Regions from separate parts of the Homo sapiens genome. Here regions 1 and 2 are each linked to region 3. Evidence: fine-mapped expression QTL. A gene starts in region 3. Each other region holds a variant in brackets. All regions are shown on one strand. Distances are between the middles of the regions. Region 1 has its middle 21 kb from the start of ATP5MJ. Region 2 overlaps TDRD9 (tudor domain containing 9). Region 3 holds the start of TDRD9 (tudor domain containing 9).

Region 1 (10,432 bases), 27 kb before region 3:
TCCCCTCCCCTCCCCTCCCCCTTTCTTTTCTTTTCTTTTCTTTTTGAGACAGAGTCTTGCCTTGTAGCCCAGGCTGGAGTGCAATGGCGTGATCTCGGCTCACTACAACCTCCGCCTCCCAGGTTGAAGCGATTCTCCTGCCTCAGCCTCTGGAGTAGCTGGGATTACAGGTGCCAGCCACCACGCCCAGCTAATTTTTGTATCTTTAGTAGAGACCAAGTTTCGTCGTATTGGCCAGGCTGGTCTCGAACTCCTGACCTCATGATCTGCCCACCTTGGCCTCTCAAAGTGTTGGGATTACAGGCGTGAGTCAGCCACCGCACCCGGCCCAGGGAGCATTTTATTTTTAAGTGACAGGGTCTCACTCTGTCACTCAGGCTGGATTGCAGTTGTGTGATCATGGCTCACTGCAGCCTTGACCCCCTGGGCTCAAGTGCTCCTCCCACCTCAGCCTCCTGAGTACCTGGGATTACTGGCACGCACCACCCTAGGAATTTAATTTAATCATCCAGCACTGGTCAGCCCCAGGCTCCTTCCTCCAGGCACTTGGCTCCCCATCTCCTCCTCGGCTGGTCTGGGCTGGGTAGGTTTGCAGGGCTGGACTCAGAAAGTTGTATTTTAGCAAAGCTCTCTCCCAGACTTGAAGGTGCAGCCCAGAGTAAGTGCTTGGAGAGCTGTAGCACCCCTTCCAGGAGGATCCGTGAGACGTGGTGAGACCCCAGAGGAGACGGGGGTACCTGTACTGCCATGGCCCCACACTGAGGGATGAGCACTGCCTTTGTGCCAGACGAGGAGAGAAACCACAGGGTGTAGCTTGGCAATGTGGAGACGGATCCCGCCTTCCTTCCAGCCACATGGAGATGGATCTCTCCTTCCTTCCTGTCACGTGGAAATAGATCCCACCTTCCTTCCCCATCATGTGTGGAGACGTATCCCGCCTTTCTTCCCTGTCATGTGGAAATGGATCCTGCCTTCCTTCCCCATCATGTGGAGATGGATCCTGCCTTCCTTCCCCGTCATGTGGAGATGGATCCCGCCTTCCTTCCCCGCCATGTGGGCCTGTGGGGGGAGTGGGAGGGACAGGTAGATTCCTTTTGGTTTCCTGCCAGCCCACTCAATCCCTCACTCTGGGGAGAGCAAGGATAAACTGTGTAGGATAAACTCACCCCCAAAGTGGCTAACTGGTAGCTGCAAGGCTGCATATTCCCCAGGCCTGGGCCAGACAGTTCCCATCAAAGGAGAGCCTGGTGCTGGTAGGGTCTCCCCCAAAGGATGCTTTGTTCACCCATGGAAATAAACACTTCCCCTGGATAGTTACTCCTGGGACTCGAGTGTAATATGGGGTGTACGTTACTCTTTAACAGGTGACTCCATCCAGGTCATAAAGCTCTTCTGAACTAAGTTCCTGGAAGATAGGCGTTACCACCTCCAGCCCGGGTGTTTATTAACCACTCCCACGGTGGCCACGGAGCAGCCAGGGGTAGTTGTTGCCAGGACGCTGGGCTCACCTTCTGAACTTTGTCCTGAGAACCAGAGCATGGCGGGCCACCCTCATCAGCTTTCCCCAAACCAGCAGGGAGTTGGCACAAGACCAGGGGCTTGGCAAGGGTTGCTTTCCTCTGCTGCAGTGAGGAGCCTCCGTTTAATCCCCACCTCCCCCCTCTGCAGCCACTTTGAAAGAACTGGAGTGAACACAGGCTCCTGGCAGGGAGGAGGTGTCTAAATCACCAGGCTGGCCTCTGGCACCGAGGCCCAAAGCACTCTCACCGCCATTGCCACCCAAACCTGGACTTCCAGACCAGGGCCGCTGGGCTGACAACCATGTGTCAACCTTTAAAGATGAAATAAAACTGCATGAAACCGGGAGGTTTAAAAACCAAAATATAAGGGACCCAGATGGGCGTCTCAATGGTGGAGAGAGACAATGAGCAGAGCTGTGGGGAAGGAAACCCCTGAAACCCTGGCCTGTCACGCGGCATGGATCACCGGCGGACACCAGGCCCGAGGGCAGCTCGCGCATAGGCTGGCGGGAGACCTATAGGCTGGTGCCGAAGATGAGCCGGGCCAGTCAGATGTCCCATTCAGGTTTGGACCATAAACAGAAGAGGGAGGCTCCTTGGAGAAGGGAAATATGGCCAAAAGGTCGTGTGGGTGCCATGGGGCCCCACACAGCATCGTGACCCTAGTCAGGAGGAGCGGAGCAGCGTAGCAGGGAGCAGGCACGGGGAGGAGAGAGGACAGCTTGGAAATGGGTCAAGGAGGCCCCAGTGAGACACAGAGCCAAGATCTTCTAGGCCGCTCTGTGTCCAGGGCCAGCCACAGTTCTGGGATCCAGGAGTCCTGGGGCCCACAGTGTCTTCTTGGATCCCCAAAAGATACTGTGTCCCGACAGGGCCAACATGGGTAGATCTCAGCTTCTTTTGATCCCCCGTGAGAACATCTTAGAATGGGCGTCTGTGGATACTGGAGTCTGTTCTCCTTCCAGGCTCCATGGCTGCCTCGGTTCACAGGCTGGGAGATGAGGAGTGGAGTTGGGGCTGTCACTTGCATGAGACGAGGGTGGGCCTGTGTGGCGAGTATAGAATCAGTCAAACACTCACCTTCTGATGAACTTAGATCAACTTGTGTTGGCTCAACTGCTGGGCATGTTGGGACCTGAGAGTTGGGTAGGCATGTGGGGAGAGGTGGGTATAAGCCTGGCTCCTAAAGACAGTGGCAATCTGCCCAAGGGGGCTGGTGAGTGCAGGCACAGCTCAGGTGGGAAGGCACACCGGAAGGGTGTTCTGGTCAGCAGTGACAGCAGCTACATCTTTGTTTTGGTATATATATATGTATATGTACCATATATTGGAGATTGGAGGAGAGTCCCTCCCCTCCTGGAGAGAGGGGAGCATGGGGAGAAAGGAAGGATCTCTGAGGCCCAGCTTGATGCTCAGCTCAGGGCAGGAAAATAGCGGGGAAGCCCAGCCTCTTTGCCTGACACACATGGTGGAGAGGTGGAGGGAGACTGAGGCTGAGCCCAGCCTCCAGGTCTACCAGAAATTGAGTTTAAGACAAGACCAACTGCGCCCCAGGCACAGGTAGGGGTGGCTCCTTGAATGCTCCCAGCCATCATCAGGCCTGGAGCAGTGAGCACACAGCCGGGCCTCGCCTCCTGCAGCAGGGCAGGCAGGGCGGCAGGGGAGGGGAAGGGAGCCCAGCCCCAGGTATGCAGCCTCGGTCTGCGGCTGCTCTCCTCACGACACCTGGAAGCTGGGCCGGGGGGCTTTTCTTCTGAAGGTGGGTGCACCCTGTGCTGTATTTGGAGGAAAATTCAGCTGTGCTGACTGGGCAGAACTGCGGGTGGTTCAAGTCTTTGCAGAAGGCCTTGCTCCAGGCTTCCTTCAAAGGCAGGCTCTTTTAGGTCAGTGGGCTGCACTTGAGTATGCATCAGAATCTCCTGGAGGGCTCCTGAAACACAGGCCTGGGCCCTATCACGGAGGGCCCAAAGCAGGTCTTGGGTGGGGCCCAAGAACCTGCATTTATGACAGGTTCCCAGATGCTGCTGCTGTGGCCCCAGGAAACCCTTTGAGAACTGCCACTGCAGGCCATTTCGGTTGGAATTTGATTTGCAAACGTTCACATCTGCAGTTCCTCTTAGAAGGGAAGGCGCCTTCTCAAGCACAAGTGAAACAACTCTCTCCACCTGCTGGTGTGCTGGTGCTTGGGCTGCGGGGAAGGGATGTGTGTGTGAGGCAGAGGCCCTCAATTCCTCCGGGTGGGGTGGGGAGATGGCCTGGCAGTACCCATGGCTGGGGGCAGAGCTATCCTGTGGGCCTGGGGAGCCCGCCTGGGTGATGAGACGTGCTGGCACAGGCTCCGCAGCCGGCAGCGCCTCGTCACAGGGGTGGGCTTCAGAACTGCTTGGGCTGGCATGAGAGGCCGCGGGTGCTGGCTTCCCTGGAAAAGCCACTCAGCTTTGAGACCAGAGAGGAGATGCAGACACAAGCCTTCGTCTTCACCCCTTTTCGAAAGAGAGAAAGCCCGAATCTCAACAACAGAGTGTCTCTATCAGTCCCATGGTTGTCCTCAGCCTGGGGAGAGCCTGAGCCGGCCAGGACAGGCAGCTCTTCCATGTGGCTCCTTGCGGTCCCCACAGTAGTCGCTTTGTGGGGCAGGGAGAGGCGACGGGCATCCCGCCAGTCTCCTGGATACTTCAGGACATGGGTAGGCCCACGGTGGTGTTCCCACGCAGTTTTGGGATGTGCAGTCACCTGAAGGCAGCTGATGTGAAGAAGAGCACGGTGGGTGGTGTGGGCAGGGTGGC[C/A]ACCCCGGGATTACCTGTGTGCTGCCCACATCCGCCCAGGTGGGGATTCGTGCTCAGGTGGCTTACTGGGGGGTGCGGAGGAGAGCAGGCTTCTCAATGCTTATGGAAACAGGAGAAGACAAGCAGGAGGTGGGTTTCAGGAGGCGAGTTTCGGCCCAGGTCCTGTTGGTGCTTGCAGCAGCTTGATCCTAGAGTGTGCCTGGCAGTCAGTGGTCACACGCTGCAACGGGGGAACATGAGCCTCCAGCACTTTTTTTATTTTGAGACAGGGTCTCACTCTGATGCCCAGGCTGGAGTACTTGGTGCCACCATAGCTCACTGCAGCCTCTAGCTCTTGGTTGGGCTCAAGCAATCCTCCCGCCTTGGCCACCTGAGTAACTGGAATTACAGGCATGTGCCACTGCGCGATTAAAAAAATTTTTTTTTGGCCAGGCACGGTGGCTCACGCCTGTAATGCCAGCACTTTGGGAGGCTGAGATGGGGGGATCACTTGAGGTCAGGAGTTCGAGAGCAGTCTGGCCAACGAGGTGAAACTCTGTCTCTACTAAAAAATACAAAAATTAGCCAGGCGTGGTAGCGCACGCCTGTAATCCCAGCTACTCGGGAGGCTGAGGTGGGAGAATTGCTTCGACTCAGGAGGCGGAAGTTGTAGGGAGCCAAGATCACCATTGCACTCCAGCCTAGGCAACAGAGCGAGACTTCATCTCAAAAACAAAACAAAACAAAACAAAACAAACAATTTTTTTTTTTTTTTTTTTTTTTTTAGAGATAGGGCCTCACTTTGTTGCCCAGGCTGGTCTCGAACTCGTGGACTTAGATGATCCTCCCACCTCGAGCTCCCAAAGTGCTGGGATTACAGGCGTGAGCCACCGCTCCTGGCTGAAATTCTTCTTTCAACCAAGGAAGATGTGTAATGAGCTTTGTGACCCCAGAAAGGCATGTGCAGAGCGTGGCTGAGAGTGGCAGGTGTGGGTCCCAGGCGAAAGAGGTCGACTAAAGAGGAGCTGTTCATCATGGGGTGGGCACTCAGGAAGAGCCAGAGATTCCTGGGCTTGGAGCACCAGCATCTCAGCATGTTCCGACAGAAGGGGCCTCAAGGTGACTCCCTTTGGGAAGCTTTGGCTTGAACCCACTTTTCCTCCAGCAGCGCAGAGCTTCTCGCTCGCTGGTGTGCACCGGCGCGCTGTCCAGCAGGGGGCGCCACTCCCAGGGCCGCTTCCCCGCGGGAGCCCTCCCTTCCTGGCATATCGTGGGAGCAGCGTTCCCTCCCACACACCTGACTTAGAACCCCCAGAGTTCTCACATGCGAGTCGCACTTGTCTGCTGTATTCTGAGTATATTGTGCTTGCAAATCAATCCTAAGTGAATTCTATTTTGAATTCAACCAATGAATGTAACGAAACCTCAATCACTGAACAGAGAAAGCAAGTTTGAGTTATGTAAAACTAAATGATGAGTTATTTTACTTTATTTTTAATTTTATTATTTTTTTTTTAGATGGAGTCTCCCTCTGTCGCCCAGGCTGGAGTGCAGTGGCGCGATCTCGGCTCATTGCAACCTCTGCCTCCCGGGTTCAAGTGATTCTCCTGCCTCAGCCTCCCGAGTAGCTGGGATTACAGGTGCCCACAACCATGCTCAGCTAATTTTTGTGTTTAGAGATGGGGTTTCTCCATGTTGGTCTGGCTGGTCTCGAAGTCCTGACCTCAGGTGATCCACCCACCTCGGCCTCACAAATTGCTGGGATTACAGGCGTGAGCCGCCATGCCTGGCATGATGAATTATTTTAAAATAAGGCTTATTGATATCTCATTTAATTCTTAACTTTATGAAGAATGCCTTTTTATCTTCTTTTGCTGCTTACAAGTTCACACAGCATCTCAAGCCTGGATTACTGGCCAAGAATGATGTATAATGACCACCTCACTTACTTATCTGTAGGTGGGTATTTCTAAATGCTTATGGGTACTTACATTTTAGGACTCCTCAAATATTTTATTATTATTATTATTATTGGAGGTGGAGTCTCACTCTTGGCTGGAGAGCAAGTGGCGTGATCTCCACTAACTACAACCTCCGCCTCCTGGGTTCAAGTGATTCTCCTGCCTCAGCCTCCCGAGTAGCTGCGACTACAGGCATGTGCCATCACATCCGGCTAATTTTTGTAATTTTAGTAGAGACAAGGTTTCGCCATTTTGGCCAGGCTGGCTTCGAACTCCTGACCTCGAGTGATCTGCCCACCTTTGCCTCCCAGAGTGCTGGGATTACAGGCATGAGCCACCGCACCCACCCAGGACTCCTCAAATATTTTAATATTACTCTGGCACATTTGATTAAATAGCACTAAATTTCCCTATCTATGAAGAAACTATTTGCTCAAATAAAGGGGTAAATTTCAGCCCAGGCACTCTGAGAATTATCAATGGTTTTGAGACAGGATTTAATGTATCATATTGGATACTTTTCATTCATTGAAAAACTAGGTCTTTATTTTCTGAGGGTTAGCCTAGAATTTTTTTTTTTTTTTTGATATGGAGTTTTGTTCTTCTTGCCTAGACTGGAGTGCAATGGCATGATCTCGGCTCACTGCAACCTCCACCTCCCGGGTTCAAGCGATTCTCCTGTCTCAGCCTCCCGAGTAGCTGGGATTACAGAAGCCCGCCACCACACCCGGCTAATTTTTGTATTTTTAGTAGAGACGGGGTTTCATTGTGTTGGTCAGGCCGGTCTTGAACTCCTGACCTTAGGTGATCTGCCCACCTTGGCCCCCCAAAGTGCTGGGATTACAGGTGTGAGCCACCACGCCCAGGTTTTTTTTTTTTTTTTTTTTGAGACAGGGTCTCACTGTCCCGCACACTGGAGTGCAGTGGTTCGATCATGGCTCACTGCAGCCTCAACCTTCTGGGCTCAAGAAATCCCCCTGCCTTAGCCTCCCAAAGTACTGGGATTACAGGCATGAGCCACCACGCTTGGCCAGCATAGAATTTTTAGAAACCTTTTTTTTTTTTTTTTTTTTTTTTGAGATGGAGTCTCACTCTGTCACCCAGGCTGGAGTGCAGTGGCGTGATCTCGGCTCACTGCAAGCTCCGCCTCACCAGTTCACGCCATTCTCCTGTCTCAGCCTCCTGAGTAGCTGGGACTACAGGCGCCCGCCACCATCCCCAGCTAATTTTTGTATTTTTTTGGTAGAGACAGGGTTTCACCGTGTTAGCTAGGATGGTCTCGATCTCCTGACCTCGTGATCCACCCGCCTCGGCCTCCCAAAGTGCTGGGATTACAGGCGTGAGCCACCGCACCCGGCCAGAAACTTTTCTTATAGCTTTATTGAAGTATAAAGTCTCCACATAACATTATGTCTACATAATTTGGAGGTTATTGGTAAGTTTCACATTAATTGCACAATTTGATGAGTTTTTTTTTTTTTTTTGAGATGGAGTCTCACCTTATCACCAGGCTGGAGCGCAGTGATGCGATCTCAGCTCATTGCAACCTCCGCCTCCTGGTTCAAGTGATTCTTCTGCCTCGGCCTCCCAAAGTGTTGGGATTACAGGCATGAGCCACCGAGCCTCGCCAATGAGTTTTAACATATATATACACAGTCAAACCATCCCCACAATCAAGAAAATGAACAGATCCATCACCCCCCAAAGTTTCCTCCTGACTTTTTGTAATCAATCCCTCCTCCTCCATCTCTGCTGTGTTTCCCTTAGATGAGCCCAGGAGTTCAAGACCAGATGGCATCTCTCTCATTCCTGATATTGATTTTATCTTCTTCCTTTATTTTTTTCTTGATCAGTCTGGCTAGCGGTTTATCCATTTTATTGACGTTCTCAAAGAACCAGCTTTTGGTTTCATTGATCTTTCTCCATTGTTTTTCTCTTTTTCGTTTCTTTTTTTTTTTTTTTTAAGGAGGGGTCCTGCGGCCGGGTGCGGTGGCTCACACCTGTAATCCCAGCACTTTGAAAGCCCGAGGCGGGAGGATCACGAGGTCAGGAGATTGAGACCATCCTGGCTACACGGTGAAACCCCGTCTCTACTAAAAATACAAAAAATTGCCGGGCGTGGTGTCACGCACCTGTAGTCCCAGCTAGTCAGGAGGCTGAGGCAGAAGAATCGCTTGAACCGGGGAGGTGGAGGTTGCAGTGAGCTGAGATTGCGCCACTGCACTCTGGCCTGGGTGACAGAGCGAGACTCCATCTTGAAAAAAAAAAAAAAGATGGGGTCTTGCTATGTTACTGAGGGAGATCTTGAACTCCTGAGCTCAAGCAATCTTTCTATCTCAGCTTCCTGAGCCTGGGATTATAGGCACATGCCAGAGTGCCCAGCTCTCTGTTTTCTCTTCCATTGAAACGTCTAATTTCTTGTCTTTCCCATCTTTGGCTTGGGAAAAATTTGCTCTTTTCTTTGTAGTTTCTTACGTCTCATGTCTGGTCCACCTAACAGGCTTATTTCTATTAATTAACCCAGTGGAGTCTATGGTAAGCATCAGTATCTTGGAGTTCAGTTATGGGAGACTCATTGCCTCCAGACTGATTAGCTCTGGAGGACAGGCTAAATCAAATTTCTACTCTGGCAATAGAAAGAGCTACCAGGTTCCTGGACCACAATAGCTGCACTGAGCATGGTCCTTCCCTCTGGCCTGGCCAGGAAGTCAGAAACCATTCTGTCATTTCCTTGTCATTAGTAATAGAGTAATTGGTAATATATAGTCACTAAAGATATCCCTTACTCTATTTTAGCAAGAGCTAGGAAATTATTTTTTAATTAGCATCCTTATTTAATTAAATTCATTAAAAGATATGAGTACCTACCATAAATGCCTGGTCCTTTGTTAGATATCAGGCTTACAAGAGATGAATTCATGTCCTTTACATACATCTGCAATTTATCATCTATCCTACAATTGCTTCACAGTTTACTTTATTTTTGGATGATGCAATTTAGGTTCATTACAAATCCATTAGCTATAGAATTACAGAGCTGAGAGAGATTCTGGAAGTCTTAATTTAGAGATGAGAAAGCCGAGGCCCAGAGAAGTTACGGAGTTTGCCAGAGGCCACACAGGCAATGAGCAGTAGCTCCAGCCGGAACCCGAATCCAACCTATGTGAATGATCTCAGGTACAGGGGCACAAATAAGAGGCACAGGCTGTGCACAGGCATTTGCAGAAATACATATATATATATATTTTCTTGAGACAGTCTCACTCTGTCATCCAGGCTGGAGTAGAGTGGCATGATCACGGCTCACTGCAGCCTCGACCTCCTGGGATCAGGTAATCCTCTCGCCTCAGTCTCCTGAGTAGCTGAGTAGCTGGGACTACAGCCCGGCCTGGAAACACTTTTTACATGGCACAATAAAACCAGAATAGGCCGGGGGCGGTGGCTCACGCCTGTAATCCCAGCACTTTGGGAAGCCGAGGCAGGCGGATCACGAGGTCAGGAGATCGAGACTATCCTGGCTAACACGGTGAAACCCCGTCTCTACTAAAAATACAAAAAATACAAAAAATTTGCCGGTCACTGTGGCGGGTGCCTGTAGTCCCAGCTACTTGGGAGGCTGAGGCAGGAGAATGGCGTGAACCTGGGAGGCAGAGTTTGCAGTGAGCGGAGATCGCACCACTGCACTCCAGCCTGGGCAACAGAGTGAAACTCTGTCTCGAAAAAAAAAGAAAAAAAAAAAAAACTAGAATGATACTCTGTGTGCTTTTTATGTGAGGCTTATTACGATTTTTAAAATTTTAGTATTCCTCTTTTACCACTCCTAATTTTCATCTGTTCTACAAACACTTATAATATTCCAACTCCAACACGACCTAGTTTACAGTTTTTACTGAGGTGGGAGCAGCATCGTTTACTTCCTCTCCATGGCCACTGTCCCGAGTATGGCGTGCGCGCCACAAAGTTCAGGAAGCGTGGCTGACCTCTGAGACCCCGACCCTCTTCCTCACGCCTTGCATTTGGTGCCAGCAGCAGTGGTAGAAGCAGGGCTAGGGAGGCCAGCGCCAGCTGCCGCTTTCTCCTGCAGGGGGAGGGCGAGCTCTGTGGGAGCCTGCAGCCTCCTCACCGCGTTGTTAGGCGGGTCTTGGCGGGGTTGGGTGAACTGTCTTGGTTGCACGACCTGCTCGGG
Region 2 (10,432 bases), 86 kb after region 3:
TTATATATTTAAAGGATGAACTTAATTGGGGACGGTTAAATTACATTCAAATCAAGAGAATTAGAGAGGTAAGTTAAGTTTTTTGACCAAATGGATGCAAATAAAGTTGACTTATGAAATATTTATTAAATGACAACAATATTTATTAAGTACGTGGGTAGTAATGAGTATTCCAAGAAGTGTATTTCCTGCCTGTTTCCAGCTTTAGTAGGAGTGTCTCTTGTGTTTTCACCTTTCAGTAGAACTACTTGGGTTTCTAATAAATACTCCTTTTCCAGTTAAGGAATGTATTTCCCCTATGTATACTTTAATGAGGAATGGTTGTGTCATCTTGTTGTATGTCTTTTCAGTATATGTCAGGATAAAGAGATTGGGTGTCGTGGCTCACACCTGTAGTCCCAGCTTCTGGGAAAGCTGAGGTGAGAGGTTTGCATGAGCCTGGGAGGCAGAGGCTTCAGTGAGCCGTGATCGCACCAATATATTCTAGCCTGGGTGACAGAGCGAGAGCCTGTCTTGAAAAAGAAAAAGATAAACATATGGTATTTTAATTTTTTACCCACTAATACAATCTTACATTGCTTAATGACAGGAATACATTCTGAGAAATGAGTAATTACATGGTTTTATCCTTGTGCAAACAGCATAGAACATACTTACACAGACCTAGATGGTATGGCCCACTACACGCCTAGGCTGTATAGTGTAGCCTATGGCTTCTAGGCTGCAAACCTGTACAGCATGTGACTGTATTGAACACTGTAGGCAATTACAACAAAATGGTAAGTATTTCTGTACCTAAACATAACTAAACATAGAAAAGGTGCGGTAAAAATATGGTTATAAAACAGGGTTTCCCAACACCTGGGCCATATTCTCCTTTTGAGAATATAACTAATACCAGATCTCAGGTGGAGCAGTTTCATCCTGAAACCATCCCCATCTACTCCGGCCTGTGGGAAAATTGTCTTTCATGAAACTGGTCCCTGGTGCTAAAAAGGTTAGGGATCACTGGTATAAAAGATAAAAATGGCATACCAATATAGGGAGCTTATGGTGAATGCAGATTGCAGGACTGGAAGTGGTTCTGGGTGAGTCAGTGAGTGAGTGGTGAGGGAATGTGAAGGCCCAGGACACCACTGCACATGACTGTAGACTATAAACAGTGCAGACTTGGGCTACACTAAGTTCATAAAAATTTTTAAAAAATTAATTGTAGCTTAATATAACTTTTTTTAACTTGATAAACTTTTTAATTAAAAAAAATTTTTGGCTCATATTAACACTTAGCTTAAAACACAAACATTGTACAGCTATGCAAAAATATTTTCTTTCTTTATATCCTTATTCTATAAGTTTTTATCTATTTCCTTATTTATTTGGTTTTTGAGCTAGGATCTCACTCTGTTGCCCAGGCTGGAGTGCAATGGCATGATCACAGCTCATAGAAGCCTTGACTTCCTGGGCTCAAGCAATTCTCCTGCCTCAGCCTCTGCAGTAGCTGGAACTACAGGCATATGTCACCACTCGTAATTTGTTTTTTCTTTCTTTCTTTTTTTTTTTTTTTTGAGATGGAGTCTTGCCCTGTCACCCAGGGTGGAGTGCAATGGCACAGTCTCGGCTCACTGTAACCTCTGCCTCCCGGGTTCAAACAATTCTCCTGCCTCAGCCTCCCGAGTAGCTGGGATTACAGGTGTGCGTCACCACGCTTGGCTACTTTTTTGTATTTTTAGTAGAGACAGGGTTTCACCATGTTGGCCAGGCTGGTCTTGAACTCCTGACCTTGTGATCTGCCTGCCTTGGCCTCTCAAAGTGTTGGGATTACAGGTGTGAGCCACTGTGCCTGTCCTAATTTTTTTTATTCTTTTATTTTTTTGTAGAGACAGGGTGTCACTTTGTAGCCCAGACTGGTTTTATCTATTTTAAAAAATAATTTTTATTTGTTAAACTTTTTTGTTAAAAACTAAGACACACATACACATTAGCCTAGGCGTACACAGAGTCAGGATCATCAGTATCACTGTCTTCCGCCTCCACATCTTGTCCACTGGAAGGTCATCAGGGGCAGTAACACATGGAGCTATCATCTCTTACAGTATAATAGTGCCTTCTCCTGGATACCTCCTGAAGGATACCTGCCTGAGACTGTTTTATAATTAACTTTGTTTGTTTCCTTTTTTTTTTTTTTTGCTACTTCTTTCAAGACATGTGAAGTTAATTTAAAAAAAAAATAGGAGTATATACTCTGAAATAATGATGGTATAGTATGATAAATCCATAAGCCAGTAACATAGTTACTATCATTATCAAGTACAGTCATCCCTTGGTATTCACTGGAGGGTTGGTTTCAGGACCCCTGTATACCAAAATTCACGAATACTCAAGTCTTACAGTTGGCCCTGTGGCGCCCATGTGAATAGTCGGCCTTCCATATACTCGGGCTTGCATCCCTCGAATACTGTATTTTTGATCCACATTTGGTTGAGAAAAACCTGCATATAAGTGGGCCCTCGCTGTTCAACCCCATGTTGTTCAGGGGTGAACTGAAATGTACTGTATGTGTTGTATGTGCTAGACTTTCATATGATTGGCAGCACAGTAGGTTTGTTTACACCAGCATCACTGCAGACACGTGAGTAAACGTGTTGCCCTACAACAGCTATGACGTGACCAGGCAACAGGAATTTTCTAGCTCTGTGACGGTCTTATGGGTCCACAGTTCTATACGTGTCCATGGTCAACTGAGACACTGCTATGTGGTGCATGACTTATACATGAATACATGATGGATTTCCCACTGTTGACCCAGCCACGTGTTCTTAGAATAAACTCTGCTTGTTTGTAATGTTTTCTCCCAAAACATTGCTCGGTTCTGATTGCCAATATTTTCTCTAGAATTTTTGCCTCTATATTTATAAGTGAAATTGGCCTCTGGTTTACGTGTGTGTGTGTGCATGTGTGCGCACATGCATGCACAATACTATGAGATGTTGTTATTGATACCACCCTGGTAGGATGAACATCTTTCTGTACCCAGGAACCATTTTAATCAACAGTTTAATAACTAGAAATGTATTTCTTACATATTTGATAGAACACATTCAAAAACACCTTTGGGATTAGTGCCTTTTTGAGGGATCAATTTTAAAAAAAATTTCAATACCCCTGGTAGTTACTGATCCATTCTGGATTCTAATTCTTCTGGAGTCATTTTTGATGAGTTACGTTTTTTCATTCAGGTACCCATTTAATCCAGATCATGAAGTTTATTGATGTATAGTTACACGTAATTTTCTTAATTTCAAATTCATGTCAACTGGTAACACCTTTCTTGTTCTTATTGTTGTGTATTTGTGTACTCTCATTGTTTCTTGATTATATTTGTATATTCAGGGAGTCCCCAAGACCATCCTCAGGTTCACTGATTGGCTAGAAGGACTCACAGAAGTAGAAAAGCTGTTATGCTTATGCTTATGATTTATTTTAGCCAAAGGATATGGATTAAAATCAGCAAAGGTTAAAAAAAAAAAGTGCATGGGAGGAGCCCTGGAGAGACCAGGTGCAGGCTACCAGGTGTCCTTTCCCAGTAGAGTCTTATGGACAGTGATTAATTCTCTCAGCAACAGTGTGCGATGACAGGCATGAAGTATTGCAACCAGGAAGCTCACCTGAGCCTTGGTGTCCTGGGTTTTTATTGAGCACTGGTTATGTAGGCCTAGAGTACCCATGTGACTGACTTTAGTTACTCAGTCTTCAGTCCCTCCAGAGGAAACTGTTACCCTCATGGCCCAAGGCCCCACCGTCAATCATATTCTAGCGTGAACTCTTTTGTGTGGCCCAAGGCCCCAGGTCAGCATGCATACTCTTATCCAGGAGGGTAAGAGTCCCTGGAGGCTTGGCAATGACCTTTCAGGAGCTGGGCCAGGGCCAAGCCTTTCTCTGGAATGTGCATGGTCTGGACAGCCAGGCCTGCTGGATTACTCCTTTACTGCAGAGTCTGCAAGATGCTTCCTTTGTGTTATTGTATTTTCAGAGAGCTTACTCTTAGTTTCATTTGTCAGTTTTCTTGTGTATGTTTTTTGGGAGGGAAGGAGTAGGTGTGGGATTCTAAATCATTGCTTTTTTTTTTTTTCCATTAATTTAGTTCTCCTTTGACTTTTAGTTTACTTCAGTCTTTCTGAAATTAGTATTTATTATTAATAATAATATTTTCAGTCTTTCTAATTAAAAGCATTTAAAGCTATGAATTTTATTATGAGCAGCTTTAGCCACCACATCCTATTGATTTTTGACATTCCTGTCTATAATTTCTTTTAGTGTTGGTTTCCTCTCTGACTAAAGAGTTTATTTTTATTTTTTAGAGACAGGGTCTTTGTCTCCCAGACTGGAATGCAGTGGCATAACCATAGCTCACTGCAGCCTCAAACTCCTGTGCTTAAGCAATCCTCCTGCCTCAGCCTCCTAAAGCTCTGAGAGGTGTGAACCACCGTGCCCAGCCCTGAAATGTTTTTAAATATCTTTTTGTTGTTGTTCATTTCTGATTTTATTGCATTTTAGTATAGAGAGTGGCATAGTCTTGGTTTTTACTTAGTTCACTTACATGTGATTACAGTCACATGAAACAGTTCCATCCCTCAGGGGTACAGAGGCGAGCATCTGAGTGTGCTCTCCCTTGCTTCCCATGTCCCAGGCTTTTCCTCCCTCCACAGAGATAGTGGCTGCTGAGTTTTTCTGTCCTTTCAATTCTTTTTAGTTGTTATTCCCCCCAGTTATGTTCACACTTGTGACTGTATTCTTTTTGTAATTGAGATACTTTTGTGGTGACTTAATTTATGATCAGTTCATAGGTATTTGGAGTTGTGTATTTTCATGTGTGTACATTAAAGTTTGACATTTTGTGTGAAACAGTTTTTATTACAACTGGATATTGATTTTATTTTCCTGTTCGGAGGGACTATTTGGCCATAGGTCACTTACTTTGTTTTTAATCACAAAAGCC[G/A]TACATGTTCATGGCAGAGGCTGGGACGTGTTTCAAGGATCTAAAGCAAGGCTGTGGTCATGGCTCTCTGCTATTCTGACCTCTGGGTGGGCACAGTTATGCGTTTGCATTGGTTCCCATCTCAGGGGTGTGTGTTTATAAACAGATCAGGGAGCATATATGATTTTGTATTCTGGTATTTTCTCTAAGTGTTATATTGTTCATCCTTAACATTACTTATTAATTAATTTCTAAGAAGATGATTCTTGCCAGGCATGGTGGCACACGCCTGTATTGCCGGTTGTTTGGGAGGCTGAGGCTGGAGGATCACTTGAGCGTAGGAGTTCTGGGCTGTAGTGCGCCATGCTGATTGGGTGTTGCATTAAACGCAACACTGATGTGGTAACCTCTTGGGAGCCAGGGACCACTGTGTTGCCTAAGGAGGGGTGAACCAGCCAAGTTGGAGCAGGTCAAAACTCCTGTGTTGATCCGTGTGGGATTGTGCCTGTGAATAGCCACTGCACTGTCTAGCCTGGGCAATATAGCAAGATCTTGCCTCTAAAAATAAATTTTAGGCCAGGCATGGTGGCTCACGCCTGTCATCCCAGCACCTTGGGGGGCCGAGGCAGGCGGATCATGAGGTCAGGAGATTGAGACCATCCTGGCTAACACGGTGAAACCCTGTCTCTACTAAAAATACAAAAAATTAGCTGGGCGTGGTGGTGGGTACCTGTAGGCCCAGCTACTCGGGAAGCTGAAGCAGGAGAATGGCGTGAACCTCGGAGGCAGAGCTTGCAGTGAACCAAGCTGTGATCGCGCCACTGCACTCCAGCCTGGACAACAGAGCGAGACTGTCTCAAAAAAAAAAAAAAAAAAAGATAATAATAATAAAAATTTTTAAGAGATTATTTCTTTTTTTTTTTGGAGACAGAATCTTACTCTGCCACCCAGGCTGTAGTACAGTGACACAATCTTGGCTCACTGCAACCGCTGCCCTCCAGTCTCAGGTGATCCTCCCATCTCAGCCTCCCAAGTAGCTGGGACTACAGGTCTGCGCCACCACGCCCAGCTAACTTTGTATTTTTTTTGTAGAGACTGGGTTTCGCCATGTTGCCCGGGCTGGTTTCAAACTCCTGAGTTCAAGTGATCTCCCAACCTTGGCCTCCCAAAGTGCTGGGATTAGAGGTGTGAGTCACCGTGCACAGCCAAAAGATGATTCTTAATTAGCTGCAGTGTTTCATTCTGTAGCTGTGTTTATACTTTACCCGTTGTGCACTTATTTTCTAGTGTTTTCACTGCTCTGATGACATATGTACCTTTGAGACATCAGATTTCAATGTATTTTTCTTAGGTGGCTGAATTATATGAAGAATTGAAGACTAGAATCTCACAGTTCAACATGCATGTTGATTCTCGGCGACCTGTCATGGACCAAGAGTATATATATAAGCAGCGATTCATCCTACAGGTGTGCTGAAGTTTCCTGGATATTTTTTTTCCTGATTCTTTCTGCTTACAAGGTCTTGTGGTCGAGAAACTGCTTATTCCTGCTTTCTGATACAAACCAAACCTCAAAGGAGATTTTAGGTCCATAGTGTTCATACTGCGTTTGGGAACCAGGAAACATTCTTCTTTCATAGTTTGCATTATTTGTTGAGTTGATGATTCACCTAGAGAGTATTTATTGTTTATTTATTAATATTTAATGGATTCAGACCCATTTCTAATTTCCAGGGGAGTGTTTCTATAGAGTACCTGTGTTATCACTGCTTCAGGAGAGATCCTTTTGTTTTAGCTTTTAAGAAAGTGAAGTGCTCTTTATATCGTTCAGTGTATATAGCTATTCCCCTACACTGAAAATATTATTTTAACTTTGGAGGCCATGGATTCAAATTACTAGTAGTTAGCTGGAATGTAGCGAGTGAGAAGTGTGTCCTGGCCAGTGGAGACTGCCTCTGCTGTAGGGTTTCCTAGAAGGGTTGGCTGATGCATACGGAATCAGGTTTGAGGTAGATGCCTATAAACCGGGTGTGCTGGAAATGTGCGAGTGTTTTCCTGGATGTAAAATTGCTCTAAGGCTGGGGGAGTCTTTGGTGGGTGTGTTTCAAACTGGTATGTTTTTATTGAAGAAGGGACTCTTTGCAGAGTGCATTTTAGAGGTGAATAGTGGATGCCAGCCTGCTGCCCTAAATCTGAGTGCTCCAATTGGAGTTTTATCTGAACATCTGAGAGTACCTTGCACATAGATGTGTGTGGGGAGAAGTGGAGAAAGTTGGCCGACCTTGGGGCTTTGTGTGTAGGATGGTTTATGTCCTTGTTCAACTTGCCACTGTTTCCCAAGCCTCATTCTGAGAAGTACTCAAGCTCTTTTGAAGAAAGATGTTTCTGTTAGGTGAAAAAAGTGTTTATTTTTTAGTGTTTCTGTTAGATGAAATTACCAGAATTGTGACTTTCTGCTTGGTTGGTGAAAGGTCTAGTTTTCCATACAAACGATAACCATCTTTTACATTTATGGATGTCATATCATGCTGGGTTGAGATTAGTATATTGGTGAGAATAACTGATAAAATAATGCTGTTACTTCATGAAAATAAATTTCTTTTTCAGGTTGTATTGGCAGGTGCTTTCTATCCAAATTACTTTACTTTTGGACAGCCGGATGAGGAGATGGCGGTGAGGGAGCTGGCTGGCAAGGACCCCAAGACAACTGTCGTGGTAGGTGCTGGGGGCAGGCCGTCCTCTCTGGGGTGTGGTGGGGCAGAACATTTTTGTTCTCTAATTGTTTCTATTCTTGTGAGTCCTAAGTGAATTTTCCCCTGGCGTGAATATTAGGCTTGTTTGGCCTTTTCAGGTGTATCTAGGCTTGTTTGGCCTTTTCATGTGTATCTACTTGTCCCTCAGTCTCTTGCCTCCTTTTACAGACCTGGCCTTATAAGGAAGCCTTGAGAGTTTATACGTTCAAGGTCAATGCTGATTTGATCATGTGCTATTTTGAAGGATTTAAGGCACTTACAAGTTTAAGAACATTTTCTTAATTCACAACTTCATTTCATACAAAATAAAATGTTATTGGTTGGCAGCTGAGTGCTGTGGCTTAAGCCAGTGACCCCCCGACCTGGATGCCCAACAGAACTACCTGGAGAGTGCTTATTTTATTTATATTCGTTGAAATTCAGATCTGAAGGCTCTGCGAGATCTGAGCTAGAAAGTATGCCCTAGAAATCAGCATTCAAGTAGTGTGTACTTTGGGCATATCTAATGATCAGCCACAGGCCCTGACCATTGAATCAGCGTTTGCAACCCAGTTGTTTAAAGCCCAGCAGCAGGGAGACTCACACTGGAAGAAAGCTGAGACTGGACTGTTTTGGATCACTTGGTTCCAGTATGTGCCTGTATCTGATAAGGCGGGGTGAGAAGCGCTTGAAGTTCCTTCGTGTCATATCGTAAGGGCTCAGTCATTGCCAGATTTTATCCTGGTTATTGTTACACCACCACTGTTAGTCCTGAAGAAATAAATAGCTCATAAGGAAAGGGCGCAGATGACTTGAGATTACAACTGGAGGTCTTTGATGAGCACCAAAAGGAGCTGGTGCTCTGGAGATGAGAGAGGCAGCTGAGATACACTTGATACCCGTGGAAGGGACTTTAAAAGGAAGTCATTAGTTTTTTATAGCTACTGAGGATCATTTGATTGGCACCTCTGCTCCTGCTGGCCATCAGGTTTGACTAAGCTCTTTGCTTGGCTTCCTCTCTCACCCCTCTGCCCCTTCGTGGTTTTCTTCCCTCAGCTGTGCGCAAGAGGAAGGGTTCTATAGGTCTCTTCCTCAGACGTCTAGTAGCTATGCCTGCATCCCTCGACCACAGAGAGCCTAGTCTGGGGGCCCAAAATTACCTAGTGTGTACATCATAAAAGCTCAATAATAGCTGGCTTTACTTAGCACTTGAGAGGCTGTGTGTTAGGTACTTTTCATTCTTCTCTGAGCCTCACTCCACCCTTTGAGTTGGGGATTTCTCATGTCATTCTTATTTCATGATGTGGCAGTTGGGTCTCAGGGTAACTCTGTAACTTGCCTAAGGAGACACGCGGATTCAGGGAGTGAGGAGACAGGATCTAACTGGATCTGAGCCCCAGCCCATGCCTTCACTTACATGCCTTCTGTCACGGAGCCCCGTGCAGAGCTGCGCTGGCACAGGAGTTGTCCTGGTCCAGAAGAAAGTATGGAGTGCTTTGCAGAAACCCAGCATGGTACCTTGAGAGTTTATACATTAAAAGTCACTGCCAATTTGATCATGTGCTATTTGGTCTTTCCACTGTGGTGATGAGGAAATACATATTCCTCTCATTAGTTAGACATTTTCCTTTAAAGTTTACATTCCCATTATTCCTTATGTAGAAATATGTTTTGAAAAGAAGTATTTAGTAAGCTTGATTATTTTAAGGGAAAACAGAAGTAAACAAATCTTAATTTTGCTGTATTAGACTTACACCATTTTAACAGGGTTAGAATTAGCCTTTATTTAACATATTTATTATAGAACTTAGTTAGAATTTAAAAGTCTTTAAATGCACTGATCTGTAGAGTTTATATATTATGGTTAAAGATAGTAAACTATGTTTTTAGAAACTAAAACAGTGTGCAGCAGCTTTGAGCTTGTGAATGTTGAAACTATTTTGTTAGCTCTAGTAATCTGCTCTGATTTTGTGTTATATTTTACAGTTGAAACACATTCCTCCCTATGGATTTCTTTACTATAAACAACTACAGTCTCTCTTTAGACAGTGTGGTCAAGTCAAATCCATTGTATTTGATGGTGCAAAGTAAGTATATTTTTGTAATCAACTGCAATTATGAAGGAGGCATAATGATTCAAATGTTTCCAGACGCTGATTGTTAAAACGGAGTGCCCATGGAAATGGGTCCTCCTATGGGCTGCTGCAATTGGCTTTCAGAATGTAGCTTTGGTTTATCTTATGGTCAGAAGCAATTTGTCTTCTCTTTCTGCTAAGTGACCTCCTAAAGGAACTAAGCTGCTGGTTAGTGGTCAAGCATGGTCACTCCAAGAAGGCTCAGTAACTCAGTGTGATGCTAAGGCGGATTCTCTTAAAGTGATCTTCACTTTCACGCACTGGTCTGAGATTTTCTCAGTGAGTCATTAGTAAGAGTTATTTTGTGGGCCATGAAGGTGATCCAAAATAGAGTGTATCTGCTTATAGTTGTCTAAAGCAGATATGTTTTGAATATTTTTGGAAGGCAAACATTGTAAAAACTCAATTTGGCTCTACTTACTGCATGTAAGGAACAAATGTGTGTTTTGGAGCATCACTGAGTTTTTATTTCTAACAGGAAATGTTTATGTACCAAAAAGCCTAAAGTAGGATTTTTAATTTTTAAAGTTAGAAATTTTTTCCAGTGTTCTGTGAATGTTGTATAAATTTTTATTTAACTTTACAAAGCT
Region 3 (10,432 bases):
AAAAAAAAAAAAAAAAAAAAAAAGCCAAATAAAAATTGGATGGAGGCTGGGCGCAGTGGCTCAGCACTTTGGGAGGCCTGTAATCTGTAATCTTAGCACTTTGGGAGGCCAAAGCAGGCAAACTGCTTGAGTTCAGGAGTTTGAGACCAGCCTGGCTAACATGGTGAAACCCCTTCTCTACTAAAAATACAAAAATTAGCTGGGTGTGGTGGTGGTGCGCACCTGTAATTCCAGGTACTTGGGAGGCTGAGGCAGGAGAATCGCTTGAACCCTGGAGGTGGAGGCTGCAGTGAGCTGAGATGGCGCCACTGTATTCCAGCTTGGGCGACAGAGCGAGACTCTGTCTCAAACAAACAAAACAAAAAATTGGATGGATTTGGCAGATTAGACAGTTAAAGAATAAACTGCAAGATCGAAGAAGCCATTCAGAAAATAAGAGGGATACAGCAGGAAAGATACCAATCATATGGGTAATTGGTATCTTAGAAGGAAATTAAAGAGGTGAGGCAGAAATATCTGAAGAGCTAATGGCTGAGAATTTTCCAAAAGTGATGAGAAAAAAATCATGCCAAAGATTCAAAAAGCCTTACAGAGGCCAGGCGCGGTGGCTTACGCCTGTAATCCCAGCACTTTAGGAGGCCAAGGCGGGCGGATCACCACACCATCCTGGCTAACACGGTGAAACCCCGTCTCTACCAAAAATACAAAAAAATTAGCTGGGTGTGGTGGTGGGTGCCTGTAGTCCCAGCTACTCCGGAGGCTGAGTGAGAGAATGGCGTGAGCCCGGGAGGCGGAGCTTGCAGTGAGCAGAGATGGCGCCACTGCACTCCAGCCAGGGAAACAGAGCAAGACTCCGTCTCAAAAACAAAAACAAAAAACAAAAAACAAACAAAAAGCCTTACAGAAACCAAGCAGGCAGATAAATAAAAATAAATCAATACCTTGAAATCTCACAATAAAGCCATAGAAAAGATAAAGATAAAATCTCAAAGAAAGTAACCACCAATCAAGAATTCTATACACAGGGAATTCTATACACAGGGAAATTGGCATTCAGAAAAGAAGGTAAAATAAAGACAGTTAAGGACAAACTAAGAGGAAATCGTGCTAGGCATGGTGGCTCATGCTTGTAATCCCAGCACTTTGGGAGGACTGCTTGAGCCCAGAATTTTGAGACCAGCCTGGCCAATGTATTAAGATCCCATCTTTAAAGGAAAAAAAAAAAGAGGAAATTATTAGGTTTTGAAGGGAAGGCAAGGGTTAAAGACAGACAAGACAGACACACACACACAGAGGGAGGGGGGGAGGGGAGAGGGGAGAGAGATGGTGGCTTCAACAGCAACACAGGTTTATTGCCAGCAAAAACCCGTGGAGCGGATAACCAGTTTAGTGCCCGAGCTCACTGCCGCTTCCAGGCTGGGGTAATTATAGGTCTGGGCTGGATGGGTCTGGGCAGTATGGCTTGCTGCCTGGCAGGATGTGATAAGGATGTTCCCGCAGTCAGGCAGTTGGGCAGGATGTTTCTTATGGTCAGAGCCCCCATGGAATGTTTCACTCCGACCAGGGTCTGTGAAATGGTGGGGGGTTTATAAAATGGTGCAGCTAGGACTGAAATAATCACAAGCAGATCCACAGTAAAATAAATGTTCATTATTCAGGCACAAGGAAAACGAGCTCAGATGTGTCAAGATAAAATAATAAAAGGCTCAAGATCCAGTTAAAATCATTTTTTTTCTTTTTTGAGATGGAGTCTTGCTGTGTCGCCCAGGCTGGAGTGCAGTGGTGCGATCTTTGAAAATGTAAAAGTGTTATTCCTCTCACACACACACACACACACACACACACACACAATGTTTTTTGGAAAACATAGTGACGTTTTAGAAAAATACACTGTTTAACATCAAACGGGTTTATCATTTTAAAATAAATAAGTAAAAACATTTCTCAGTTGTAATCCCTGATAGACATAACCCACATAAACAAAATCTCTTTAGGGTCCTCAGCAACTTTTAAGAGTGTAAAGGGGTTCTGAGACAGAACCAGGTTTGAGAACCACTGTCCTATAGTAAAAATGTTTTAGAGTTTTAGATTTATAATGACTTATAACACTGCTGAGGACGAGAACAAGCATTTAGGAAAAACTTAAGGAAGAACATCATGGAGAGCTGCTTCAAGACAGAGCTTCTGAACTTCCAACTAGACTTGAGATCAATAGACTTTGCTATGTTGCCCAGGCTGGTCTTGAACTGCTGGCCTCAAGTGATCCTCCCACCTTGACCTCTCAAAGTGTCAGAATTACAGGCGTGAGCCACTGTGCTCAGACCAAGAGAGTTTTAATGTCTTTAGTTTCAAATCCAAAACACCCTAAGAAACGCACATCTTAAAAAAAAAAAACAACCAAATGTTTCTTTTTTTTTTTTTTTTTTTTTTGAGATAGAGTCTTGCTCTGTCGCCCAGGCTGGAGCACAGTGGCGTGATCTTGGCTCACTGCAAGCTCTGCCTCCCGGGTTCACGCCATTCTCCTGCCTCAGCCTCCCAAGTAGCTGGGACTACAGGCGCCCGCCACCACGCCAGGCTAATTTTTTGTATTTTTAGTAGAGATGGTTTTTCACCGAGTTAGCCAGGATGGTGTCGATCTCCTGACCTCGTGATCCGCCCGCCTTAGCCCCCCAAAGTGCTGGGATTACCGGTGTGAGCCACTGCGCCCGGCCAAAAAAACCTAAATGTTTAAGGAAAGGGCCACTCCAGCAGATTTATTCAAAGTGCAGAATGTTGCATCTTGTGGTAGGAAGGCTGGAGAAGACAGCAAGCTACTTCGAGCACAGCTTCCTCTGCTTTGAGGAGAGTGCTGCTGAATGGCACCAACACCATTTGTAACTGCTCTCAGCTGTTAGTTTCCCCTTTTTGGTGGACGCTCAAATGCTCAGTGAATGCAAATATGCAAAACCTTCCCAAAATACCATGGCTCACTAGGGGTTCAGTGGCCTTCCCATGTGTTCTGGCCTAGATGTGACAAGTCCATGAAGATCTATCTGATGTCAAGCTGTTTCTTGTTTCTTTTTTCTTTTTTGAGACAGAGTCTTGCTCTGCCGCCCAGGCTGGAGTGCAGTGGTGCGATCTTGGCTCACTGCAACCTGCACCTCCTGGGTTCGAGCGATTCTCCTGCCTCAGCCTCCCGAGTAGCTGGGATTACAGGTGCGCGCCACTACACCCAGCTAATTTTTGTATTTTTAGTAGAGATGGGGTTTCATCATGTTGGTCAGGCTGGTCTTGAACTCCTGACCTCACGATCTGCCCACCTCAGCCTCCCAAAGTGCTGGGATTACAGTCGTGAGCCACCGCGCCCAGCCCAAGCTGTTTCTTTTAACTCTGAACTTTGGACAGCAATGCAAGGTGAACTTGACCAAGTGAGTTGGGAGCACCGAGAACTACTGAATCAAATGAAAGGTGCTCAAAGCCATTCAGTCTGTGATGATTCAGAATGTTAACTAGTGTTTGGTCAGGAAACACTATGGCAACTTTCCAAATTGGCAAATTTCCAAAGAAGCATCAAGAGAGTATCTTTGGATTGCAATTAAAAAAAAAATCAAAACTCAGAAGGATTAGCTAGTAGCCCAAAAGATCAAAGAATATAGAAAATGCCCCCCAGAAAATGTTTTTGAAAAGCATCTTCCACTTAAAATCGTATTCATTGTGACATCAACAAAGGATGACAGCACACGGTAACAGCAACATCCTAGAAAAACAGGCCAGGCGCGGTGGCTCACGCCTATGATCCCAGCATTTTGGGAGGCCGAGGCGGGCGGATCATGAGGTCAGGAGATTGAGACCTTCCTAGCCAACATGGTGAAACCCCGTCTCTACTAAAATACAAAAAATTAGCCAGCCATGGTGGTGCATGCTTGTAGTCCCAGCTACTCCGGAGGATGAGGCAGGAGAATTGCTTGAACCTGGGAGGCAGAGGTTGCAGTGAGCTATCGCGCCACTGCACTCCAGCCTGGTGACAGAGCAAGACTCCGTCTCAAAACAACAACAAAAAACAAAACAAAACAAGTGTGAGTTCTGGAGTTGCTTCAAGTGGTTTCAATATATTTTGTAAAATTTTGAATTATGTCCTAGCCTCCACATACAGTGTGAAGTTACAATATTTTCCAATCAATGCTGAATGACATACCATGAGTCTCAATTACTTTATGATTACCTTTTTTCTTATTTTTTGAAAAACATGACTGGGCATGGTGGTTCATGCTTGTAGTCTCAACACTTTGGGAGGCCAAGGGCTCCCAAACAGATTGCTTGAGCCCAGGAGCTTGAGACTGGCCTGGGCAACACAGCGAAACCCCTGTCTGTACTAAAAATATAAAAAATTAGCCGGTGTGGTGGTGGCGTGAGCCTGTAGTTCCAGCTATGCAGGAGGTTGTGGTGGGAGCATCACCTGAGCCCCCGAAGTTGAGGCTGCAGTGAGCCCTGATTGCAGCACGGCACTCCAGCCTCAGCGACAGGAGTGAGACCCTGCCTCAAAAGAAAAAAGAAAAGCAAGTTATTTCTTCCTGGCAAAGTGTGTTGAGGCACTTTTGGGAACCTGTCGTATTTGGCAGAGTCCTAATATGAGGTCTAGAGCTCATTATGCCAGGATTTGGAGCCAGAACTCCTGGCTTAGTATGATTATGGGTTCAATTTTTGAGACACCAATAGCTCAACCTACCTGCCTGATTTCTGTCTACAGTGTTTTCAAACCGCCCTCTTATTTGCCACTGCTTGGGCTTTACACTGCTGATTAGAGCCATGCTCTCGATACCGTCTCTGTATTTGTTCACATGGCTCTTTCCTGAGAGCCCACATGGGCCAGATAGATCCTGCCCTGGCCAGTGAGGGGGACACACCCCAGGCAGGTGGCCATGTCTCTCTTCTGACCCTCCCTTCCCTTGCACACGTGGCTGCCTTCCCGTGCATCCTTTGTTGATTTCTTCCCGCGGCTCCTTCTTTTGGGGAGTTTGCTAGGGCTCTGTTCTCCACCCTCACTCTTCTAGAGCTCGGCCGGGACCACCTCAGCCTGTATCTTTGGTCCATGTGATCGCCTGGACCTCCTGTCCGCACCTGTTTGTGTCCAGCTGTGAGTCTGACACCGCCGCCTGAGACACCGGTTTAGGAAGGAAGATGAATTCAGTTATGATCCGGCTGCAAAGAACTTCTCCCAGATCCTCACCTCAGCCATCAGGGCCGCCTGCCCTCCCCTATAACCCTGGGTGGTCCTCCGTCTGGCGCATTCCCCCGTATCCTGCAGGGGTCTGCCTGGCGTTACTTTCTCCGAGACCTTCCTGACCTTCTTCTTGCCCCTCTCCCCCCATATTAGGTGCAAGGATGTCCTGGTACGTCTGACCCACGAACGCAAATCCCTTCTCTGGTTTGCCTTCCATCTCCTCACCCTGAGGTGCTCAAGAAACGTATGTAGGGTCCCGGTCCGCTCAAAGCGCACAAACCTCCGAGGCAGCAGCCTCTAAATAGAGAGGCCAGGGAGTGACCGGAGGGCATTTTCTTGTACACACAGGGGTTGCCACGGAACTCCCGTGAAACAGACTCCCGGGCCAGCCGCGGCGCTCAAGCTTCCCCTGAGGTCCTAGAAAGGCTCACCCTGGGCTCGCTCGGGGCGGCGGCTCCCGGCAGGCCTAGCGCGGCGGGGCGGGGCCGGCGGCACGAGGACCAGGCAGCGCGGGCAGCACGCGCCCGGGCCGGAGCCCGCCCACAAGGGCGCGCGGCGCGTTCTGATTGGAAGGCCTCGAGCGGGGGCGGGGCTTCCAGGGTGCGCTTCCGCCGTCGCCTGTTCCCGCCGCGGAGACCCGGCAGTTGGGGGATGCCGACGCCTGGGCCTTGAGGATGCTGCGGAAGCTCACCATCGAGCAGATCAACGACTGGTTCACCATCGGCAAGACGGTGACCAATGTGGAGCTGCTGGGCGCGCCGCCCGCCTTCCCGGCAGGGGCGGCCAGGGAGGAGGTGCAGCGCCAGGACGTGGCCCCCGGCGCTGGTCCCGCGGCCCAGGCTCCGGCTCTGGCCCAAGCTCCGGCCCGGCCGGCCGCTGCGTTCGAAAGGTAGGACGCGGGCGGGGCGGAGGCGGCTGGAGGGCGGCCGGGCGAGGCCTGGCGACGAGGGCACGGGCCATCCAGATCCTTCTCGCGAGCCCGTGCCCTCTCGCGGGGCTCCAGGGACCCCTGACCGTCCAGGGCGAGTGGTCACTACACAACCCGACGCGCGGCCCAGAGCGGTGCCTGTAAGGAAGCTGAGCTAGAGGTTTTTTTTTTTTTTTTTTTTTCAGTTCTTAATGTTTAACAGACTAGTTTTTGAGGCACTCAGGTTTTCAGGATAACGGAGCGGAGGGCAGAGGTCCCATAGGCCCCTTCCCTCCCAGAGTTTCCCCTGTGAGCATCTGCGTAAGGTGTGGGTATTTGTGACAGTCGGCGAACCTGCATCGCTGCGTCTTCGTCACCCGGAGGCCATCGTTACAGGAGGGTTCACGCCTCGTACTGGACGTTCTGTGGGTTTGGACAAACGCCTAACGTCACGCATTACAGAGTTCACTGACCTACAGATCTTCTCGGCCCCACTGTTCCTGCCTCCCTTTCCCTACACCACGTGGAAACCACTGATTTTTTTACTGTCTCCATAATTTTGCTTTTCCATACTGTCATCTAGTTGGAATCACACAGTATGTGTAGCCTTTTTGATGGGTTTCTGTCACTTAGTATTAGTATGCATTTGGGGGTTCCTCCATGCCTTTCCATGGTTTGATAGCTTCTTTCCTTTTAGCACTGATTAATATTCCACTGTCTGGATGTACCACAGTTTATCTCCATTCACCTACTGAAGGAGAGCTTGGTTGCTTCCAAGTTCTCCCCCCACCCCCCGAGATGGAGTCTCACTTTGTTACCCAGGCTGGAGTGGAGTGGCGCCATCTCGCCTCACTGCAATCTCCCCCTCCTAGGTTCAAGCGATTCTCCTGCCTCAGCCTCCCGAGTAGCTGAGGCTACAGGCATATGCCACCACGCCTGGCTAATTTTTGTATTTTTAATAGAGACAGGGTTTCACCATGTTGGCCAGGCTAGTCTAGAACTCCTGACCTCAGGTGATCTGCCCACCTCAGCCTCCCAAAGTGCTGGGATTACAGGCGTGAGCCACTGCGCCCGGCCTGCTTCCAAGTTTTGGCAAGGTTTTTGTGTGGACATAAGTTTTCAACTCATTGGGTAAATACCAAGGAGTGCAAATGCTGAATCTTTGTTAAGTTTCACAGACTCCCTCCTCATCTCACTATTCTTTAAGTAGCTACCATCAGTTACTCTGTTCACTTGATTTGGGTGGAAATAAAAAGCAAGAGTATATCCTCTGTTTTTAGAGGAAAGACGTAGATTTGGTGAGTAGAAACACCTGCTCCCTCTTCTCGCTCTTTAAAAAGGCCCTGGGAGAAGTACTTCCAGCTTGGAGTATCTCCGTCACTCTTGCTCAGTCCCCAAGTCCAGCACGCTTTACAGTTGAGAAGGTGGTTTTGTTTTTCTTTTTCTTGGTTTTTTTTTTTTGAGACATAGTTTCGCTCTTGTTGCCCAGGCTGGAGTGCAGTGGCGCAATGTTGGCTCACCACAAACCTCCGCCTCCTGGGTTCAAGCGATTCTCCTGCCTTGGCCTCCCGAGTAGCTGGGATTACTGGCGTGTGCCACCACGCCCAGCTTATTTTGTATTTTTAGTAGAGACAGCATTTCACCTTGTTGGCCAGGTCGGTCTGACCTTGTGGTCCACCCATGTCGGCCTCCCAAAGTGCTGGGATTCCAGGTGTGAGTCACCGTGCCTGGCTTTATTTTTCTTTTTTAAAGTTACTCTTGTTTGTTAGTCTTGTCTGATTTGATGGATAGGCCCAGACTCTGGGTCAAGCTTTCGTGGGTTGCTTCAAGCCTTTGTAGAGTTCTTTCAAGTACACCTTTGGGATCTTTGGTAAATTTGGTTCTTAGAGGCATAGGGGGGACCGAGAGACCCCTTGTGCAACTTTGGAGTTGCTGTTTGTATGTTTGCACACTTTACTTCCTTGAGCTACTCTGGTAAATGATCCTGTGGGCCGCCTCCCCTACTTAATGGTCCATCACTTACTCCTTAGTTTTAACGGTGTGAACAGCATTGCTATTAAATAACCCATTGTAATATTGGAAGTAAATTATTATTGACCTTGTCAGAAAGTATAGATTTAAGTGCCATTTTAAGCACTAAGGACAAGTTTTTAAGATTTCTAGTCCTTCATGGACTGAGACTTTTATAAAATCAATAAAAATGAATTTTCAGAGCAATGAAATGAAAAAAGACAACATACTAATCGCAGTTAAAAAATTATTAGATTCAATCTGGGTGTGGTGGCTCCCACCTGTAATCCCAGCACTTTGGGAGTCCAAGGTGGGCAGATCATTTGAGGTCAGGAGTTCCAAGACCAGCCTGGCCAACATGGTGAAACCCTGTCTCTACCAAAAAAAAAAACAAAAATTTGCCCAGCATGGTGGTTTGTGCCTGCCGCCCCAGCTACTCAGGAGGCTGAGGTGGGAGAATTGCTTGAGTCCCTGAGGCAGAGGTTGCAGTAAGCTGAGATTGTGCCACTGCACTCCAGCCTGGGTGACAGAATGAGACCCTGTCTCAAAAAAAAAAAAAAAATTCAACATATGTAAAATTACTTTGTGAAATTGATGTAAACATTTTAACTTCTGTATTTAACCAGTGACAGGCAATGTTGGTCTATGAGTAGTGCTAGTTTTGATGAAATTCTTCTGGAAGTAGCTTCCTGGGCTCTAGGTGCATATGTATTCAATGCCAGAGTTTCCAGCACGTAGCAGGCACTCAGCTAAATATAGCTATATTATTGAATCCGCACAACAACACTTTGAGGTTGATGGCTTTATCATCAACTGATTCTTTCATGATTTTGTAGATGAAGCAATAGGTTTTGGTGGTAAAGTGACTTGCCCAACTTCCTGTAGCAAATGGTGGTGATGGGAAGAATGACTCCCCCAAAGATGTTCACTGGAACCTGTGACTATGTAATGTTACATGGTGAAAGAGATTTCGCAGCTGTAATTAAGGTTACAGATCATAGGACAGGAAGATTAGCTAGATTGTCTGAGTGGGCCCAGTCTGATCACATGAGCCCTTAAAAGCAGAGAACTTTCTCAGGCTGGAGTCAGATAAATTTGAAATGAGAGATTTGAAATATCATTGCTCGGAGGGGCCACATGGAAAGCATGAGAATGGAATATGGGCAGCTAGGAGCAAAGACTGGATCCCACTTGACAGCAGGTAAGGAAATGGGTACCTCAGTCCTACAATTGCAAGGGACTGAGTTTGCAAGGGACTGATCCTACAATTGCAAGGGCCTGGTTTTGGCCAACAACCTGAATGCACTGCCAGTAGGGAACGCAACTCTGCTAACACCTTGATTTAGCTTTAGGAAACCCTAAGCAGGGGATCCAGTTGAGTTCACCTGGACTTGTAATTAATTTGCCTTGTTTGAAACTGCTATGTTTTTGCGATTTGTTGAGGCAGCACTGCATTAGGGTACAAATCTGGTGGCAGAGCTGGGTTCGGATTGGGGTGAGCCGACCTGTGAACCCCGCACGGTGCCTGGCACATAGTGGATACTTGGATACTTGTTGAATGTTATTTTTCCCAGTGAAGGAGAGTGTTGAGTGAGGCATTGACATTAGTGAGAGAACATTTGACATAGGGGAGGGATGGCTTTTTTTCTTTTTGAGACGGAGTCTCGCTCTGTCGCCCAGGCTGGAGTGTAGTGGCGCCATCTCGGCTCACTGCAAGCTCTGCCTCCCGGGTTCACACCATTCTGCTGCCTCAGCCTCCTGAGTAGCTGGGACTACAGGCGCCCGCCACCACAGCCGGCTAATTTTTTGTATTTTTAGTAGAGACGGGGTTTCACCGTGTTAGCCAGGATGGTCTCGATCTCCTGGCCTCGTGATCTGCCTGCCTCGGCCTTCCAAAGTGCTGGGATTACAGGCGTGAGGTACTGCGCCCGGCCGGGAGGGATGGCTTTTATAAGCATAGGGTATTGCACAGTTAAAATGTATTTGTTAGAGATAGTCACTCAATGGTAAAATTAGTGTACACCAAGTCACTGCAGTCCGGTCTGAGAGAGTGTTGTTAAATCAGCTTAATGATTAAATCAGCTTAAATCAGCAGAAGAACATGGGCAATTTTTTTTTTAATCAGCTTAATGAGTAGTGACCACCAGCATTAAAAAATAAATAGAAAATGCCAGACTACATCATAGGTAGTTCAGACAAGAATTGCCGGAGATGGTGTGGGCGCCTGTGGGTCCCAGCATGAATCTTGCTCATGCTGAAGGTGAGTAACACCTTACTCACGATGAAGGTGTTGCCGGAGTGCCTGTGGGGAACAA

Evidence for each region. PIP is the estimated chance that this variant, and not a neighbour inherited with it, causes the effect. A credible set is the group of variants that fine-mapping cannot tell apart.
Region 1: its variant is the best candidate, but not a certain one, in a credible set for the expression of TDRD9 in blood mononuclear cells (TOPMed, PIP 0.83).
Region 2: its variant is the best candidate, but not a certain one, in a credible set for the expression of TDRD9 in whole blood (TOPMed, PIP 0.54).

What each region holds. Positions count from the first base shown.
Region 1 is chr14:103,895,733-103,906,164 of GRCh38, forward strand. No RefSeq gene overlaps it. Among named protein-coding and RNA genes, the nearest start is that of ATP5MJ, 21 kb to the right of the region's middle. RefSeq lists a silencer at 5,552-5,611. The variant C/A (reference allele first, on the strand shown) is at 4,307.
Region 2 is chr14:104,008,399-104,018,830 of GRCh38, forward strand. It overlaps TDRD9 (tudor domain containing 9), which reads left to right. Exons shown (of 36, transcript NM_153046.3): 20 at 15-68; 21 at 6,327-6,443; 22 at 7,583-7,690; 23 at 9,694-9,794. It also overlaps the pseudogene RN7SL634P. Among named protein-coding and RNA genes, the nearest start is that of RD3L, 71 kb to the left of the region's middle. RefSeq lists an enhancer at 8,499-9,698. The variant G/A (reference allele first, on the strand shown) is at 4,997.
Region 3 is chr14:103,922,636-103,933,067 of GRCh38, forward strand. TDRD9 (tudor domain containing 9) reads left to right here and starts at 5,821. Exons shown (of 36, transcript NM_153046.3): 1 at 5,821-6,089. The coding sequence starts at 5,875.